Homo sapiens: one gene and its partner. The protein of the gene in region 1 interacts with the protein of each later gene in a biochemical or structural test. Each region holds a gene or a part of one and is shown in the gene's direction. Other genes may lie near its edges. The genes, in order: SIN3B and RNF220.

What was found.
Region 2: the proteins of SIN3B (region 1) and RNF220 form a complex in vitro, tested with the Homo sapiens proteins (one study listed by BioGRID).

What each region holds. Positions count from the first base shown.
Region 1 is NC_000019.10:16,859,453-16,868,422, forward strand, and holds part of SIN3B (paired amphipathic helix protein Sin3b), read left to right. Parts: intron 1-2,899; coding exon 2,900-3,107; intron 3,108-3,199; exon of another isoform or gene 3,200-3,431; coding exon of another isoform or gene 3,432-3,527; exon of another isoform or gene 3,528-4,191; coding exon of another isoform or gene 4,192-4,227; coding exon 4,228-4,344; intron 4,345-5,957; coding exon 5,958-6,196; intron 6,197-6,920; coding exon 6,921-7,104; intron 7,105-8,970.
Region 2 is NC_000001.11:44,630,917-44,639,886, forward strand, and holds part of RNF220 (E3 ubiquitin-protein ligase RNF220), read left to right. Parts: exon of another isoform or gene 1-1,238; coding exon of another isoform or gene 1,239-1,292; exon of another isoform or gene 1,293-1,296; intron 1,297-1,426; coding exon 1,427-1,469; exon of another isoform or gene 1,470-1,474; intron 1,475-4,321; exon of another isoform or gene 4,322-4,628; coding exon 4,629-4,672; coding exon of another isoform or gene 4,673-4,750; exon of another isoform or gene 4,751-5,113; coding exon 5,114-5,246; exon of another isoform or gene 5,247-5,584; intron 5,585-8,970. UniProt on the Homo sapiens protein: E3 ubiquitin-protein ligase that promotes the ubiquitination and proteasomal degradation of SIN3B. Independently of its E3 ligase activity, acts as a CTNNB1 stabilizer through USP7-mediated deubiquitination of CTNNB1 promoting Wnt signaling.

The sequences.
Region 1 (8,970 bases):
TCTAGTCCTCCCTGTAAGTGGTGTTGACAGCAAATGCTCCTGAGTCTGCGACCCTCATGGGTCAAGCTGAGCCCATCAGAAGGCCTTTCCCTGGTGGTCTCAGGCATGCACGTGTTGGGGTGATCTTTTCAGTGGGTTTTCTTTCTTGGGCTGCTGAAGGTCTGTAAACGCCCTGAAGAACAGCCCAGAGCAGGATGGTGTTACTCTAGTCTCAGCCAAAACGGGGACTCCTGGGGTCTGTTTGTGACGTGGGTGGTGGGCACACGGCTGGGCTTTTTCTGTGGATGTGGAATGCACATTCACCTTGAGTTGCCTCCACTGGGCTTAGAATCCAGCACTCTCTGAGCCTGGGTCCCACCTGGGAAAAGGGGCCCCCAGGGGCTGTGTGTGGAGCTGGTGTTGGCACCTGGGTCCAGCGGGCACGTGACCACCCCGGGTTGGAATTGGGACTCTGCTTCCTACTAGCCAAGCGAGCCTCAGTGTCTTTGTAAAATGGCCATACCTCCCTCCTGGGTTTATCAGGAGGTTAGAGGGGAAGACAGAAGGAACATGAAAGGTGAGAATCTGAAAGGCAAGGTGCTGAACAGATGGGCAGTGCCGGAGCACAGTCAGCTGTTCTTGTTTCCATGTTTCAGCAGTAGAGACTCGTATGGGGAAGGGCGTTTGGGGAAGGGTCTGTATGGAGCAAGGTCCAGAATTGAAGCGGGCCTCTGCGTGTGCTTGACACGAGGCCTGGTTGGGTTAGGAGCGTTCACCACCATGTGGCGTTCCTCCGCGTGTTCAACCTGCGGTCAAGTGCTCAGCTGGGCTGGGCAGCTGAACACGGCCCAGGGAACTGCCCCTCGCAGCTGGCAGCCGCGTGGCAGCCAGGGTGGATCGGGTTGAGCATTCCCTTCAGAGCAGTCACGATTTGCGTTTATCCCAGCAGTAGCCTCAGGCATCTCTGCAGCTTTTTTGTTGGTCTCTTTCCTTCCTACGTTTCCATCGGCTTGTGGGTTTTCCTTGTGAGCAGGGTTGGCATAGGGTTCTTAAATACGGGGAACGACGGAGCCCACATCAATGAGGGGGACGTCGTTATGCGAGGGTGGGCTGGGTGGCTAGGTCACAGCAGGATTGTGGCACCAGCAGTCAAAGTAACTGCAACTTTTTTTTTTTTTTTTTTTTTTGAGACGGAGTCTCGCTCTGTCGCCCAGGCTGGAGTGCAGTGGCGTGATCTCGGCTCACTGCAACCTCTGCCTCCTGGGTTCACGCCATTCTCCTGCCTCAGCCTCTCCCAGTAGCTGGGACTACAGGCGCCCGCCACCACGCCCAGCTAATTTTTTTTTTGTATTTTTAGTAGAGACGGGGTTTCACCGTGGTCTCGATCTCCTGACCTCGTGATCCGCCCGCCTCGGCCTCCCAAAGTTCTGGGATTACAAGCATGAGCCACTGCGCCTGGCCATAACTGCAACTTTTTTGGTAGGATCTGATGTTACTGCTTAGAGACGGGGTCCTGCTCTGTTGCCCAGGCTGGTCTCAAACTCTTGAGCTGAAGTGATCTTCCCGCCTTGGCCTCCTGAGTAGCTGGGATTCCAGGTACACACCACCAGGTCTGATACTATTTTAAACAGAAATCCAGGTGGCATTGTAGGGTCATTTGCATTAAAGCCTTCCTGTTGTCGACCACAGCCATGACATTATGACTTTCAAGCTTGTGTCCAGAGAGGGGTTCACAGAGAGAAGTCTCCCTCATGAGAGGAAGACTGTGGATCAGAGATAGGCAAACTTGATCTCTGAGGGGCCAGATGGGCTTTGTGGAAATGACTCAAACCCCTCTTGTGCAGGCAGCCACAGGCAGTGCGTACACAAGTGGATGTGACTGCAGGCCAGTGAAACTTTATTTACAATGGGATGGCTAGGCATGGTGGCTCACGCCTGTCACCCCAGTACTTTGGGAGGTTGAGGTGAAAGGATCACTTGAGGCCAGGAGTTCAAGACCAGCTTGGGCAACATAGCAAGACCCCATCTCTACAAAAAAATTTTTAAATTGGCCCTGCATGGTGGCTCACACTTGTAATCCCAGCACTTTGGGAGGCCGAGGCGGGTGAATCACCGGAGGTCAGGAGTTTGAGACCAGCCTGGCCAACATGGGGAAACCCCGTCTCTACTAAACATACAAAAATTAGCCGGGCATGGTGGTGCATGCCTGTAGTCCCAGCTACTCAGAAAGCTGAGACAGGAGAATTGCTTGAACCCGGGAGGTGGAGGTTGAAGTGAGCCGAGATTGTGCCATTGCACCCCAGCCTGGGCGACAAGAGTGAAACTCTGTCTCAAAAAAAAAAAAAAAAAAAAATTTAGCCGGGTGTGGTGGCACATGCCTGTGGTCCCAGCTACTGAGGAGGCTGCGGTGGGAGGATCTCTTGAGCCCACGAGTTTGAGGTTGCAGTAAGCTGAGATCATGCCACTGCCCTTGAGCCTGGGCAACAGAGTAAGACACTATCTCTAAAAAGAAAATACCAAACCAAACAAAACACAGGCAGTGTGCAGACTGGCTGTGGCTTGCCACTCCCTGGCCTGAAGCCTGGCCTCTTCCAGTCAGGGAACATCAGGGGTTCCAGCTTCTGCCAGTTTAAGTCATCTTTTCTGGTGTATTTCAAAGCCTTACTGTGAGTATGGGATTAATAGGCACAGGAAGGGACCTGGTGTGTGACAGATGGGTGGGAGGCCCATTCATTCACACACCCCGGGACTTGCAGTGACTTCCTGTGTATTGGATTCTTCCGCCTCTCATTCGCATCCATGATGTTGAATTCTGACTCTGTTTAACTTGTAATGTCCACATGAAGCCATTCTAAAATCTCCAGATCCCTCTCAGAAGGCCCTGGGGATGACCAGTTACCATGTGTCTTTATCTTTGAAGGAAATTTCCAGAACTCTTTGCACAGTTCAAGTCCTTCCTGGGGGTAAAAGAGCTGTCCTTCGCGCCACCCATGAGCGACAGATCCGGGGACGGGATAAGCCGGGAAATTGATTATGCATCCTGCAAGCGCATAGGATCCAGCTACCGGGCACTCCCCAAAACCTACCAGCAGCCCAAGTGCAGTGGGAGGACAGCCATCTGCAAGGAGGTAGCGCTCCCTGGGGCTCAAATGTTCGTTGACATGGTGCATCCCCCACCCCTCCCCAGCAAACACCCGATACCCCCGTTATGAATGAAATGCTGTGTGCTCAGCCCTCCTGAATGTTGGGTTATGGGTGGTGCTGGGATGTGGCCCGGCAAAACCACCTGAGCAGAGACAACAGTGTTGTACCCTGCTGGTAGTTTTGGCAAAACACAGAGTGCCAGGGATAACGTGGAGTTCGGCTTATTCATCTGTTATTTGACTTAGGTTTATTGCTGCCATGATTCTGCTCTGTCCCGGGCTCACTGACCTCAGTGTGTTTCTGTTTAGCTTGACCATTGGACACTTCTCCAGGGTTCGTGGACAGACGATTACTGCATGTCCAAGTTCAAGAATACCTGCTGGATTCCAGGATATAGTGCAGGGGTCAGCAAACTCTGGCCCACGGGCCCTGGCCCGCTGCCCGTGTTTGTAAATAAAGTTTTACTGTCACACAGACACAACCATTCCTTTACATATTGCCTGTGGCTGCTTTTCTCACCACAAAGGCAGAGTTGAGTATTCATCTGGGATGGCCTGCAAAATCTGAGATGGTTGCTGTCTGACCCTTTGCAGAGAGAATTTACCAATGTCTGAAATGAAATCGGCCCTCCGGATCTGCAAGTTCCTCATCTGTGGTTTCAACTAACCATGGATTGAAAATACGTGGGGAAAGAGAAACCAAAAAATGACAATACAGCAATAAAGCGTAATCCACATTTTAAGAATGCAGTGTAACAATGATCTACACAGCATTTACATTGCATTAGGTATAAGTATTCTAGAGATGATTTTGCATAGGATATATGCAAATAGGATTCCATTGGACATCAGGGACTTGAGTATCTGTGGATTTGGGTCTTCAGGGGTGGTTCTGGAACCAATCTCCCAGGATACCAAGGGAGTGTCCACTTGACCAAAGTCATGTTTTTCCTTAAAAACTTTATGCACCTTCCCATTTGTATAAGGCAGTTGGTATTATGTATCAGGATGGTATTATGTATCTTGGTACTTTCTACACTGGCTAACAGTAAATCTTGGCTCCTGGGGCATGCAGCGTCATTCACGGCATTTCCTCTTGGTGCAGGTACTGAACGACACCTGGGTCTCCTTCCCTTCCTGGTCTGAGGACTCCACGTTCGTCAGCTCCAAGAAGACACCGTACGAGGAGCAGCTTCACCGCTGTGAGGACGAGCGCTTCGAGGTGTGTGTGCTGCTGTGGCCGGGTCCCCCGGCATGTGCCTGTTCCCCTTCTCCATGGGACATGCATCCTGATCCTCCTCCACTGCCCCAGTCTCGTTTGGAGGAGCAGGAATTGCAGCACATTCCAACAGCTCCTGGAAGCTTCCTGCCGGGTCTTGCTGGCCTTTGGGCTGGCTACCAGATGGCACTTTTCTTTCTGTTTAAAAATTTTGTTTGGGCTGGGCGTAGTGGCAGACACCTGTAATCCCAACACTTTGGGAGGCCAAGACAGGTGGATCATTTAAGCTCAGGAGTTTGAGACCAGCCTGGGCAACATGGCGAAACCCCATCTCTACCAAAAATACAAAAATTAGCCGGGCGTGGTGGCGGGCGCCTGTAATCCCAGCTACTCGAGAGGCAGAAGCAGTAGAATTGCTTGAGCCAGAGAGGCCGAGGCTGCAGTGAGCCGAGATCACACCACTGCACTCCACCCTGGACAACAGAATGAGACCCTGTCTCCTAAAAAGTTTCTTTAATGTAAAAATTAAATTTATTTTTATTTTATTTATTTATTTATTTTGCTTGCTCTGTTTCCCAGGCTGGAAGTGCAGTGGCGTAATCATGGATCGCTGCAGCCTTGACCTCCCAGGCTCAAATGATCCTCCCACCTCAGCCTCCTGAGTAACTGGAACCACAAGTCCATACTACCATGCCCAAGTTGTTTTTTTTACTTTTTTTGTAGACATGAAGTCTCACTGTGTTCCCGAGGCTGGTCTCACACTCCTGGCCTCAAGCGATCCTCCCACCTTGGCCTTCCAAAGTGCTGAGATTAAAGGAATGAGCCACCACACCTGGCTAATTTTTTTTTCCTTTTTTTAGAGACAGGGTCTGTATTGCCCAGGCTACATTAATTTTTGTAATTAAAAGTTTTATTGGCTGGGCACGATGGCTCACGCCTGTAATCCCTGCACTTTGGGAGGCTGAGGTGGGAGGACTGCTTGAGGCCAGGAGTTCAAGACCAACCTGGGCAACAAAGCAAGAGCCCATCTATACAAAAAAAAAATTTTTTTTTTTTTTTGAGACAGAGTTTCACTCTGTCGCCCAGGCTGGAGTCCAGTGGCATGATCTTGGCTCACTGCAACCTCCACCTCCTGGGTTCAAGCGATTCTCCTGCCTTAGCCTCCTGAATAGCTGGGATTACAGGCACACCACCATTCCTGGCTAATTTTTTTATTTTTAGTAGAGACGGGGTTTCACTATGTTGGTCGGGCTGGTCTCGAACTCGTGACCTTGTGATCCGCCCATCTCAGCCTCCCAAAGTGCCAGGATTACAGGCGTGAGCCACCGTGCCCGGCCATAAATTTTTTTAATTAGCCAGGCATGGTGGTGCACACCTATATTCCTAGCTACGTGGGAGGCTAAGGTGGGAGGATTGTTTGAGCCCAGGAGGTTGAGGCTGCAGTGAGCTTTGATTGTGCCACAGCACTCAAGTCTGGGTGACAGAGCAAGACCCTATCTCTTAAATACACACACCCCCCCCCCAAAAAAATCCTCTGGTCTCTGAGGTCCCAGGCTCCTCTCTGAGGCCTCTTGAGTTCCCCAGTGGCTGACCCCGTCCTGCCTTCCTTTCCATAGTTAGACGTTGTCCTGGAGACGAACCTGGCCACAATCCGTGTGTTGGAAAGTGTGCAGAAGAAGCTGTCTCGGATGGCGCCGGAAGACCAGGAGAAGTTCCGGCTGGACGACTCCCTGGGAGGCACGTCGGAGGTGATCCAGCGCCGTGCCATTTATCGCATCTATGGCGACAAGGCCCCGGAGATCATCGAGAGCCTCAAGAAGAACCCTGTCACCGCTGTCCCCGTTGTCCTGAAAAGGTGCCCTGTGGCGTCCCGACTTCCCTTCCCCTTCCCCTTCCCCCTTCCCTCCCCTCCCCTCCCCTCCCCTCCCCACTGCAGGGAGCCCTTGGAGAGCTCATTAGTGCTGTTTGTCAACAGGTGTCATCTCCAGGGGTGGTCTCTGAGGCCTAAGGGTGCCTTCCTGTATTTCCCAGTCTCCCACTCCTGAGAGGAGAGCACTGTGACCTTCTAGGACTTTCCACCTTGCACATAATACATCTAGACATCTAAATAACTGCTTTAAGAGTCAGATGCGACCACTACACTGTGGCTTGCATTTTATTTAATGCTGCATTTCGGATGCCGTCCGGCGCTAGTTAACAGGCATTTATCAAGTGGTCACTTTCAGGCAGGTGCAGTGCTTGGCCCTGGGATTATGCAGCTGAGTGAGGCAGACCCAGTCCCTCTCTTGGGACTCACAGCTGAGCAGGGGACCTGAGTGGTTGAGCCAACAGCCATGCGGAGAGTGCTGGGTGCCAGGGAGGAGGTGGAGGAACCGGGAAGCCGGCCACATTGGCTCTGTAAGGCCATCACGCCCTCCCTCTGACGTGCACAGAGCCCACTGCACAGACTAGGCTGGGAGCTGGCTGGGCCTGGGTCCTGGACCCCCAGTCAAGTCCCAGAGGAAGACAGGCCAGCCCTGGGATGCTTCAGGGAGGATGCCCTGGCTTGTCCCTGGTGCTGACCTCTCTTCCCCCCGCAGACTGAAGGCCAAGGAAGAGGAGTGGCGGGAGGCCCAGCAGGGCTTCAACAAGATCTGGCGGGAGCAGTATGAGAAGGCGTACCTCAAGTCCCTTGACCACCAGGCTGTGAACTTCAAGCAGAACGACACCAAGGCCCTGCGCTCCAAGAGCTTGCTCAACGAGATCGAGAGCGTCTACGACGAGGTAAAGCCTTCCCTAGCCCTGCCGGCCGGTGGGGGTGGGGTCCTGGCTCTCCCGACCGCCGGGTCTGTGCCTCTGTTTCCCTGGTGGTTAGGCAGGGTAGTGGCATTGCCCTTTCAGGGCTGTGTTGAGGCGAGGGTTCATGTCTCTGTGATGCCCAGCCTGTGGCCTGCCCTAGGAGAACCAGCAACTCTGCCATTGTCTATCTGTTTGTTTGTTTGGAGACAGAGTCTCGCTGTGTTACACAGGCTGGAGTGCAGTGGTGTGATCTCAGCTCACTGTAACCTCAGCCTCCTGGGTTCAAGTGATTCTTCTGCCTCAGCCTCCTGAGTGGCTGGGACTACAGGCGCACACCACCACACCCAGCTAATTTTTATATTTTTAGTAGAGATGGGTTTTCACCATGTTGGCCAGGCTGGTCTTGAACTCCTGACCTCGTGATCCACCCACCTCAGCCTCCCAAAGTGCTGGGATTACATGCGTAAGCCACCGCTCCTGGCCGACTCTGCCATTGTCTAGCGAAGTCTCCGTCCCTCCCGTGGGGCAGTGATGGACTTTGGCTTAGGTAGTGGGTGGCAGCAGCCTTCATTTCTTTCTTGCCGACTGTGCCAGGCACCGGTGTTAGCAACACAGAAAGAGTAATGCATCATCTGACCTCACTCCTGAACCTGACTCTGCTGCGGCATTATTCTGATTTTACCAGTGGGGAAACTGAGGCACAAGAGGTTGCATTTGCCTGGGCTGGTCGCAGGGGGCCAGGGCTCTGAGTCATTGGGTTCGAGGCTTTCGGCTGCATGTCCTCACTGCAGGCTCACAAGGCCTGAGTCATAGAACCAAGGCCAGCGGGGCCCTCAGGTTGCCAGGAGCTGGGCCTGTTAGTAGCTGTGTGTAGGGAGTGCCTGCTTGCAGGATCCTGAGGTGGGAAGCTTGGCAGGGTGCCGGGCGTGGTGATAGCCAGCTGTCGGGAAGGTCCTTGGACACTCTGAGGAGGTGGCTTAGGAGGGCACACTACTCCCCAGGCAGTGCCCAGATCATGGCACGGGCTGCGTTATCAGCCTGGTGCCCACCTGGGCAGGGGGTGTTGCCTCACCTGATTTGGTTTCTTGCTCCTGTCACTGCACAGTGAGCGGTCGCTCCTTCTTTTACAACACAGAAACGGAATCCACAGGAGCCGGGCTGCTGGCCCAAGGCCTCTCCCAGAGCCTGTGGGACTGTGGGGACCCCCTTCCCTCCCACCTCCCTTCCCGTGGGCCACCCTCGCCCCAGGCCCACCCACAACCACTCTGGCTTCCTCACTCTAGTCCTCGGCGATCCTCAAGCCCAAGACCCCGTATAGGTTCTGTGGGTCTGTGGTGTCTGCAAAGTGCAGATGATGAAGTAGCCCTGGAAATCCACCAATGCGACCCTGAGTTCCTGGATCCCTCCCTGGGGCTGGGGCTGACAAAGGGAGGGGCACCAAGGTTCATATGCAGATCTCTGCACATGCAGGTCCTTGATGAATTCCAAAGTCAGAACCCCATTCCATCACGTGATTTACAAAGCATGGTTACAGATCATGGACATGGGGACCCTGCTTCAGAGGGGACTGTAAAGGAATTTTCAGAGTGTTTATGGCATAAATGAGACCTGGGGGACTTAGGAAGCAGTCAGAGGGCGATGGTCACACTGAAGAGCCCAGAGCAGGGCTGAGCGTGCAGACTCCTAGGAACCAGGTCAGTGTGCTTGGCCCTACCAGCCTCTAAGCCGCCTTGCAGGGGAGGAGGAAGGGAAACCTCAGGCTGCTAGGAGACCCGGTCCTTCCCTCGGGAGCCTGCAGAGATGGCATCCACGCTCATTTTCCCCAAGAGCCCTGCTGCGTCTGCCTCCCTG
Region 2 (8,970 bases), on another chromosome or scaffold:
TAATTTTGTCCAATAGAAAGATCACATTGTGTGTAGTGTGGAGGATGGGTTGCAGAGAGAGAAGCTAGAGACCAAAAGATGAGACGGGAACAGCTGCAAATTTCGAGAGCTCGTAAGATTATGTATGACTGGAGCACAACGACAACCAAGGTAGGTACAACCATGGAAGAACAACTCAGGGCTGACTTGCCTTTGCCCAGTGCCATGCTGGGCTCTGGGTTCACCCAAATAATTCACACACGGCCCCAACCCTGAAGTGGTCAGTCCACTGATAAAAACTTCACAAGCGATGATAACGGCGCAGAGATGAATGTACTCTTACACAAGGCAAAGCTATTTTTCAGTTAGACCTGGAAGGATGAGTAGGAGATACAGAGGTGGAGATGAGAAAATTAGCGACCTTTCAATGTACACTTTCAGGATCTAGAAAAGGATTGAGTGTGAGGGATGGAGAAAGTGGGGTCCAGGACGACTCTCAACTTTCTTCTGTGGGCACACCTGAGTAGATAGTGGCTTCCTCTTATGAACAGGGAACCCAAGAGGAAGGCCTCTGTTTGGAGGATACTGAGTTCCATGTTGGCCATGTTGGCCGTGTGGGTATGCAGTGCCTATGGGAGCTCCAGGGGCCGTGCAGCAGACAGCTGACATGTTGGGAGTCCTCTGATAACAGAACTGGATGGCCTAGGGGTTGGGCGGGGATCGCCCACAGGCGATAGGGAATTCGGACGCCTTGTCCCCTGTAAAGCACCCAACGCGATGCCTCTGCCCTAAGGGCAGCCGCGAGAAAGGCAGGCACAGGAGGCGGGAGCCGGGGCCGGGCGATGGGGCGGAAGGAGCCCCGCAGCGGGAGGGGTCGTGGAGTGGGGTGGAAGGACTTCGCAGCCGCTAAAGATTGGGTGGGTAGGCTTCACGGGCGGTGGGAGGGACCCCGGGGAGGCTTCTGCCGGTTGCTACCCGAGTACAAACGGCAGCTTCCTGGTCTCTGTCCGGCCGCCCCCGCCGCATTGTGAACTTTCACCCCCAGCGCGCGACGGCGGCAGATCACGTGATTAGGGCCAACATGGCCGCCGCCGCCGCTTGGAGCTGAAGTGCCGCCGCCGCCGGGCAGCCACGGGGAATCCGCCCGCATCGCCGCCCTCGCCGGCCGGGCGGCCGTGGGGCCCAGAGCGCCGGAGGCCAGGGCTGGGGCGGCACCGCGCAGCGGCCACGGGGTCCCGTTAGAGCAGCGCCCGGCGGCTATGCCGAGAGCCCGGAGCGGCCGGAGGAGCAGAGGGGCCGGCGGGAGGGAGGAAGTAGGTTTGTTTACGGGCTGTTTGGGGCGGAGCAGCTTTGGTCGGGGGTCCGGTGCTGGGGCGGGGGCCAGGACTGCAGGCCGCGCCTGACGCTCTCTTTTCTTTTCTTGCATCTGCCCGCGATCTTCTCCCAGACCTTTCTGCGAGTACGAGCCAACCGGCAGACCCGACTGAATGGTGAGTCCTGCCCGGCCCCTCCCTCCGCCCCACCCCCGGCCTCCTCCCTCCCTCCCTCACTGCCTGCCGCTCCTGGCTTGCCTGGGTCTCTTCGACTCTGGGGCCCGTTGGCTTCTTCGCAGTCACGGCGCCTGAGTATGTGCAAACCAAAGCTGCCGCTCTCAGTTTCCCCGTCTGTCTAATGGAGGTATGGCGCCCAGCTCTTGCCCAAACCTCTCTAAAGGCCCTGAAGAACCCTGGGGGGGCAATAAGTGCCGGAGAATGAGGAACGAGCTACACAATTCTACTCGGGAGCTCAGCTTTGAATTTGCAAACTGCTGGGACCTCACTATACAAACCTGCAGGGCGCTGAGAATGTTTTTCTTCCAGTTTTTAATCAGTGCCCAGTAGTGTGAATACAGCCCCTCTGCTGAGACTTGACAATACAGTGAGATCTGGAGTTCCCACGGCAACAGGAACTAACTCATCCCAGGGCTCTTTGAGTTATCAGTCGGCCCACATTTCACAAAGGTGATCAGCGTGGGCTCGACAGCTCTTAGAGGCCTTCTCTGAAAGCAGGCCGTGTATGCACTACCTAGCAGCCCCCCTTTTGGATTCAAACCTCTGGAGCATTCCTGTTTGCTGAATACAATTGAATGATCCTAGCTTTTTGTGCTTACTGGGGTGTGGTATCTGGGGGGTGGCTGTAAGGGGTTTAGGGTCTCTGGGTCAGCTGGTAAGTGAGAGAGGCCATGGAGTTCAAGATCCCCAGCTCTTATCACTTGGTTTCTGCTGCCAGGCTGAGCCCTAGTCTGGAAAAGGGAGAAATTCATGATGGGCTGGCGCCATGTTAAGCACCATTCTCACAACGCCTCTGAGAAGAGTATTACACACCTTTTGTGAATAAGAAAACAGGCTCTGAGAGGTGAAAGTGGTTTGTTTAAAAGTACACAGCTGGGATGTAACTGAGCCATGATTCAATTGAAGTTTGTTTCCCACCAAAGCCCGTGTTTCTCCAACCATGCCATGCTACCTCCTTGGCAAATGCTTTGATTCTTCCTACTCGTACGTAGCCTCTGGATAGAGAACAGAACTTTCCCTACCACACTTTGGTAAGCTTAATTCAGGATTTAGAAGATGAATGGGAAGGTGAAAACCAAACCTGCCTTCCTTCTCTGAGAATTTGCAGATGAAGCCCAGTCCATTGGGGTGCTTTCCAGGGACAACAAGGGATCATCTGCTGGCCTGTGTGTCCTGAGCAAGGAGCGCATCCAGTATTGTGCCTTTCTTGACCATTCCATGAGATTCGTTTCCTTAGTCATTGAACATTGTGGTATCATCAGCACCTTCTTCCCCAGGGAGGCATTCCCTTGGTGTAGGCATGGTAGGGAGGAAGCTTTGTGTTGGCACACTGCTCCTTACTACACTTCTAGAACTCTCAGGGTCCTTTGCTCAATGCCTTTCTGATGTTTCACGTCCATTCTCCATCCCAGCCCTGGCTCTAGAGTGTCAAGGCTACCTAAGTCTGAGATTCCAAGAGTTAGGGCAGCCAAAATGAAGAGTTCTCGATCTGTGTCCACAAAGTCAAGTGAGGCACTAGGACACAGTCATGTCACCTATAGTGAAGACACAGGAAAGTGAAGAGATGGACTGGGCTACAGACCAAGTTTCCTCAAACTCCATGCCCAGTTCTGGCAGGATGGTAGCTTTCCTTTTGGTTTGGGTCTTTCTGGGGTTGCTCTGTTTTGGAGTTGGAGTAGCTCCCTGCCTCAGGCTCACAACAGGCAGGAGCTGGAGCCCTAGCACACTCACTGGGACCAGTCTTTGTTGATGCTGCTCAGTTAGGAGGTCCCCTTGAAACAGGAGGGCATTCTAGGTTGTGAAGTCAGTTCTGGTTTCCTATCTTGCCTTTGCCACTTTTTAGCTACTTGGACACGTACCTTGATCTCTCTAAGCTTTGGGTTTCTTCATCTGTTAAAATGGGATAATGCAATCTAGCTTCAGCAAGTGGTAGTAAATGAGCTACCTTGGGTAAGGTACTTGGCTGTGAGCCTGACACACGGTAGAAGCTTAAATTGTAACATAGCAGCTCTCACCTGTGTTCCCCTCCTAGATTGCATTCATGAGCTTCCCGTTAGGGTCACTGTCCATGAGAAAGTTCTTCCTGGCCCTGCTTTGGGGAACCTTTCCCTCCTTTGCTGGCTCTCCCCACTCCCCATCAGTCTGGTCCCAGAGTAGCCATCTCTGATCCTGCTGTGGCATTCTGGAAGGGACTAGAGGGAAGAGAGTTTCTTGTTTTGACCCCTTCCTGCTTCAGTGACAGGAGGGCTACAGAGAGGGATTAGTGAGCTAATTAGAAATGATTGCATTGCTCAGCATTAATTAGCAGTGTTGTGGGCTTGCAGTGTGCACTTTGGAACTGAGCCCCCTGTGGGACAACATGGCAGGCAGCCCTCTGCCTCCAGGGCCTGCCAGCCCCTCTGTACTGATTAGAAATGATGGAACAGGTTCGGGTGGGCACAATAAGGGCTGCCTTCTCAGGGTTCCCTGAGCCTTCTGACCTGGCTGCCAAAGGTCTGACCCAGACCGTCTTACCTTTATGACTGGGCCTCAGTCTCCTCTTCTGTGAAATGGGATTAGTGGACCTCAGAGAAATTCTTCCTGATAAGATTCTAGGTGGGATGCTAGGAGCTGTACCTCAGGGCTCTTGGCCCAGGAACCAAAGAGGATTTAGCTGATGAGTGAACAGCAGGCCAAGTCAGGCCATCGGAGGGGTTAGGTTCTAGTCAAGAGATGCTCTTTAGAGTTGTATTTCCTGACACCAAAAGAGTTCATGGTCTTGGCCTTCTGGAGAGATACCTAGCAACATGGAGTGTCTTTGCTCACTGGATTTTTATTAAACACTGCAAATAGAAAGGTATGGGTAGACCTTGCACCAGCTGCAGCCAAAGAGTGGACTTACTCACTGGCTTAGTTAGCACCAGTCTCCTCCCCAGGTGCTCTTGGCAAAGCCCAGTCCCCAAAGGAGCAGGAGGTATTTCAAGATGAGGGCCAGATCAGGCACTGAATAAAAAGGCCAATGGCTGGCAAGAGGTCAGGATGTGTCAGCTCCACTGGGACCCTGGGGGCTGCAGTGACCGTCTGCTTGTTCTGTGCTTTGTTTTCGGTTTCCCCGTGCAGCTCGGATTGGGAAAATGAAACGGAGGAAGCAAGATGAAGGGCAGGTATGTCCCCTGTGCAACCGCCCCCTGGCAGGATCGGAGCAGGAGATGAGTAGGCATGTGGAGCATTGCCTTTCTAAGGTAGAGGGGCCATCACCACCCACCTTCCTTCCCCGCTCCCTTCCCCCGACACTAGCTGCTGACTGCCCCTGAATCTGTGGGCTCTTGGGGTCTCCATGTGGTCTCAGCAGCTTCTTCCCTTCTGACCACTGCTCTCTCCTTTTGCTTTCACTCTCACTCATTCCCTCCTTGGGCTCCAGCGGAAAACTATTGGGAAGAGGCCCAGGTCTTTGACCTCTAAATTGGTTTGCTTCAAAGGAGCCCTAGAGCTGAGGGCCCACTTGGCACACCACAGCTGGGGCTAGAGCTGTGCCTTCGTTGCAGACTGTGGGGAGCAGGTGGGGATGGCCTGGGCCCAGCATGATCCTGCTCTGCTCTTCACAGAGGGAAGGCTCCTGCATGGCTGAGGATGATGCTGTGGACATCGAGCATGAGAACAACAACCGCTTTGAGGAGTATGAGTGGTGTGGACAGAAGCGGATACGGGCCACCACTCTCCTGGAAGGTGGCTTCCGAGGTACAAGCAGCTGACACGTAGACATTGGCACTCTGGTGCCAGGCCTCTGCTGGGTATCCATCTGCTGGAAGCCAAGAGGCCGAGGCTGGTGGCTGGTCATCCATCCGTTCCACCACGTGGGGACTGCTGCTGGTGGGGCTCCTTTGTGACCGTGCTGCCTGCCTGTGATGTGCATATTAAAATGGATGTATTTGGGTGGGGAAATGGAATTGTGAGGCTGCAAGCTAGGAGTGACGAAGGGGGGCTCTCAGCTTCGGGTGATGCATTGAAGGTGACAGCCAAGCCGCGTTAGCACCTGCATAAAATATTAAAGGGACGGTTATGCATTTATCACTCCATCCCTCTTAAGGCTGATAAATGAGAATCCAGCAACCTGCTGTACACCTCCAGCACTGGGGGCCCTGAGGGCTTCCAGGCAAACACATTGGATTTTCCTCCTCCTCCTCTTCAGCCCTATGTCAGGGAAATCAGTTACAGAGGAGAGTGAGTTATGGCAAAATTTGACCTCCCATGAGCTTCATTGGTGAATCTAATTTTAGCTCTGATCCCATCCCTTCTCCCTGGGCGCCCTCTGCCCTGAAGCAAGAGGGGCCTGGGCCCAGCTGCTCCCTCCTTCCCTTGGGCTCTCCCCAGTTGCTACAAAGGAGTGTGCAGGGCCCTGCCCATCTCCAGTGCCCTCCCAGCTCCTTGGAAGAGCAAGGCTTGACACCCCCCACCAGGTCAGACAGCAGAATTGGTTGGGTGCCCAGGGTTAGTGACTTGTTAAACTCCCCAGCCTTGGGCAGGGGAAAAGGGGAGCTGTCTGCCTCTTGGCCTCCAGCTCTTCTCTCTTTCTGTGCACAAGCACAGCTGGTACTGCAGCTTGTGGTCATTAAGTGAGCCAATCTGCTTCCCGTCTGCCTCTCTCTCTGGGCAACACCTTTGGGAATACTGCTGTGTATGGTCCCTGGGGAATCTCACAGCAGCTGGGAAGAAGTTCTCTGCCTTCGTGGGGCCGTGCTACCTGGGCAGATGCTGAGGAGTGGTCTCTGCAGGGCCGTCCAGTGCAGACTGGTTCCACGAAGGGGCTAAGAGCCCAGATGAGACATTATGCCTCTGGGCGTCTCTCACATTACCCAGGTGTTTGGGGGCAAGCCAAAACATAAATCAGGAAGGTTAGTCAGACCAAACAGTCTCCCTGAGCCGGAGCTGGAGAGTGTTAGTTTGCCATTTCACTCATCCCGTACTGGAGCCTTCGAGTATCTGAGGCCCTAGAAGAGTGAGCAGCAGGGCTGACGACTGTCCCATGAGTTGGACACATGGGTGTCCGATGGCAGCCACACAGGGTCAGTTTCAACGTGCTGCTCTGGTTAGCTCTGTTGGCAGCTGCAACTGCTCACATCCTCCATTGCTGTGGCACCTTCTTAGGTTCCTTGGCACAGACCTGGACCTGATGGCTTCTGGGCACCAGACAGGGCTTATGGAGGATAAAGCTGCAAAGGGCCTGCTGATTTGACAAGAGTATTTCCCCTGTGCCGGGATGCACTTGCACAGCAGTGTGAGGGGCTCTTAGGCCCCGGGCGGGTATCCGTTTTCCCTGAGTGTTTACACTGTGAGGTTGTTCCTTTCAAGAATTCCTGAGGGGAGTTCAAAGGGGGCTTTTCTTTGAGCGATTTGGAGAGCGAGAATGAGAGTGAGACTTGAAGAGGGAACAGGGGCCGGAGGTGCCTTTATCTGCAGAGAATTGCTCCAGCTTTCCTGATAGAAGCTGCTGCCGCCTCTTAAACAGCTTAGTGCAGTCAAAAGACAGGCAGACTTGAAAGGCTGTTTTACAGCGAGATCAGCGGGGGCCACGAGGCAGAGAGCGGGGCGCAGTGGAGCGGAGGAGGCTGAGGCTCCTCAGTGGGGGGGCTATCAAAGGGAGGCCCTGGCTGATCCCTACTGCCTCTGCCCCCAAAACCCTGTCTGCAAAAGCTGGCCATCTGTCAGCCTACCCTCCCTGGCCAGGACTGATAGGCCCTAACTCTTGGGGGGTTGGGTGTGGCCTCGCCAGGCGGGCTGGTGTCAGTGCAGCGCATTGATCGCCCGCCGGGCGGGCCGGGCTGCAAGCCGGGCAGCGCGTGCTTAATGTGATTGAAAGGCAGTTAAAATGGCGGTGACCTTTTCAGGAGGAATTAGATTGCCTGCCAAGACCGGTTAGAGGGAGTGATAACGCCAGCTGAAGAAGCTGCCCAGCAGACTTCAGAGAGAAGGAGGCAGAGGCAGGATGAGCAGGCGAGTGGCGAGGCCCATTTAAACTGCGCTGTGCGTGCTGACAGAACAGAGATTGCTGTCGTTGTTAGATATGAAAGAAGTGAAGAATTGCAGATAAGTTCCTGTATCCGATCACCCCCATCCCTCCTCCCAGAGTAGGGCCTCTTCTTCATCCTCAGCAAAGCTTCCCACCAGGCCCCTGGAGGTTGGTCTGATGGATCAGATCGGTTACCTCAAATGTAATCTGCTGTGGGAAGCAGTGAACGGGCAAGAGTTTCGGTGGAGACACTTGGCTGAGGGCAACAGGCCTTAGAGATGGGGACCTGTGGTTACTGAGGAGGAGCTCCAGATATCTCAGGCCTGGGAGTACTCGGATTGATATTTTAGGACAAAATAAAGAAGCAGACAGAGCAGGTGAGCACTGAGGTAGGTCCCACTGGAAACAGATTTTTGAAAAGACTAAAGGAAATAGGTATTACTTCAAGAAAGTAAGTTGGAAGGAATTTTTGCTGCCTAGGAGGCACTCTGACCTTCCCAATTCTAGAAGAAATACTTAAGCTGTGTGTCTAAGTTGTTGATTGTCCTTTCAGAACCATAGATTTTCTAACCTGCTACTGCTCTTTACATAAAGGACAGCACACAGAGCCTAGTGCGCCACCAACATTCCACTAAAAGAGATCCGCAGTTAGGGAGAAAAGATGTTTTTCTTGGGTACCATGCCAAACCTGGGCAGAGCAAGGGGCTTCTAGGCTAGAGAAGCAGACTACAGGGGAACCTAACTATACAGCCCTTAAGACAAGCCTGCTTCCACCTGTAGTCTAAGGAGGTGTGTGACTAAGGAGCCATGCCTTTCCTCTCCTGTCCTCCATCCAGCTCCTGGATCCTGGAGAAGAGACCTATAGTGGTGAACCATGGTCCCTCCTGTGTGTTGGTTGCCAGTGAGAGTTCACCCAACTGCATTGGGGAGCCCAGAGCTCCTCACATCTGGAAGGGACATGCTGGAAAGAGGACATGGGAATGATTGGTTTCAAATAAGGTGGCAATGATGTGGGCACAAGAGTGGTGAGATGGAGAAATTTCCCAGGAAGCTTCACAGGAAATGGAAGCCTGCAGCTGTATCTTTAAGCCCTGGCGGTGACTGCGTTGCTAAAATCCAGCATGAAGCCCCTCTGAACCAAACAGGAGGAGTGGGTAGGGAAAAGAAGGGTGTTAAGACAGTCAGCAGTGCAGGGTCTTTGTCCTGCTCAGGTCCTGGCCTGAAGCGTTTCTTATCTTTCATGAGTTCCTTACATTTAAGCCGGTTCCAAGTAGCTGGATGAGAAGTCATGAAGCAAACAGGCAGAGCAGCTGTGGCACAAATCTTTTCTCTTCTTTTCTTTTCTTTTCCTTTTTATTTATTTATTTTTGAGACAGAGTCTCACTTTTTCACCCAGGCTGGAGGCTAGAGTGCAGTGGCACGATTTCGGCTCACTGCAACCTCCACCTCCTGGGT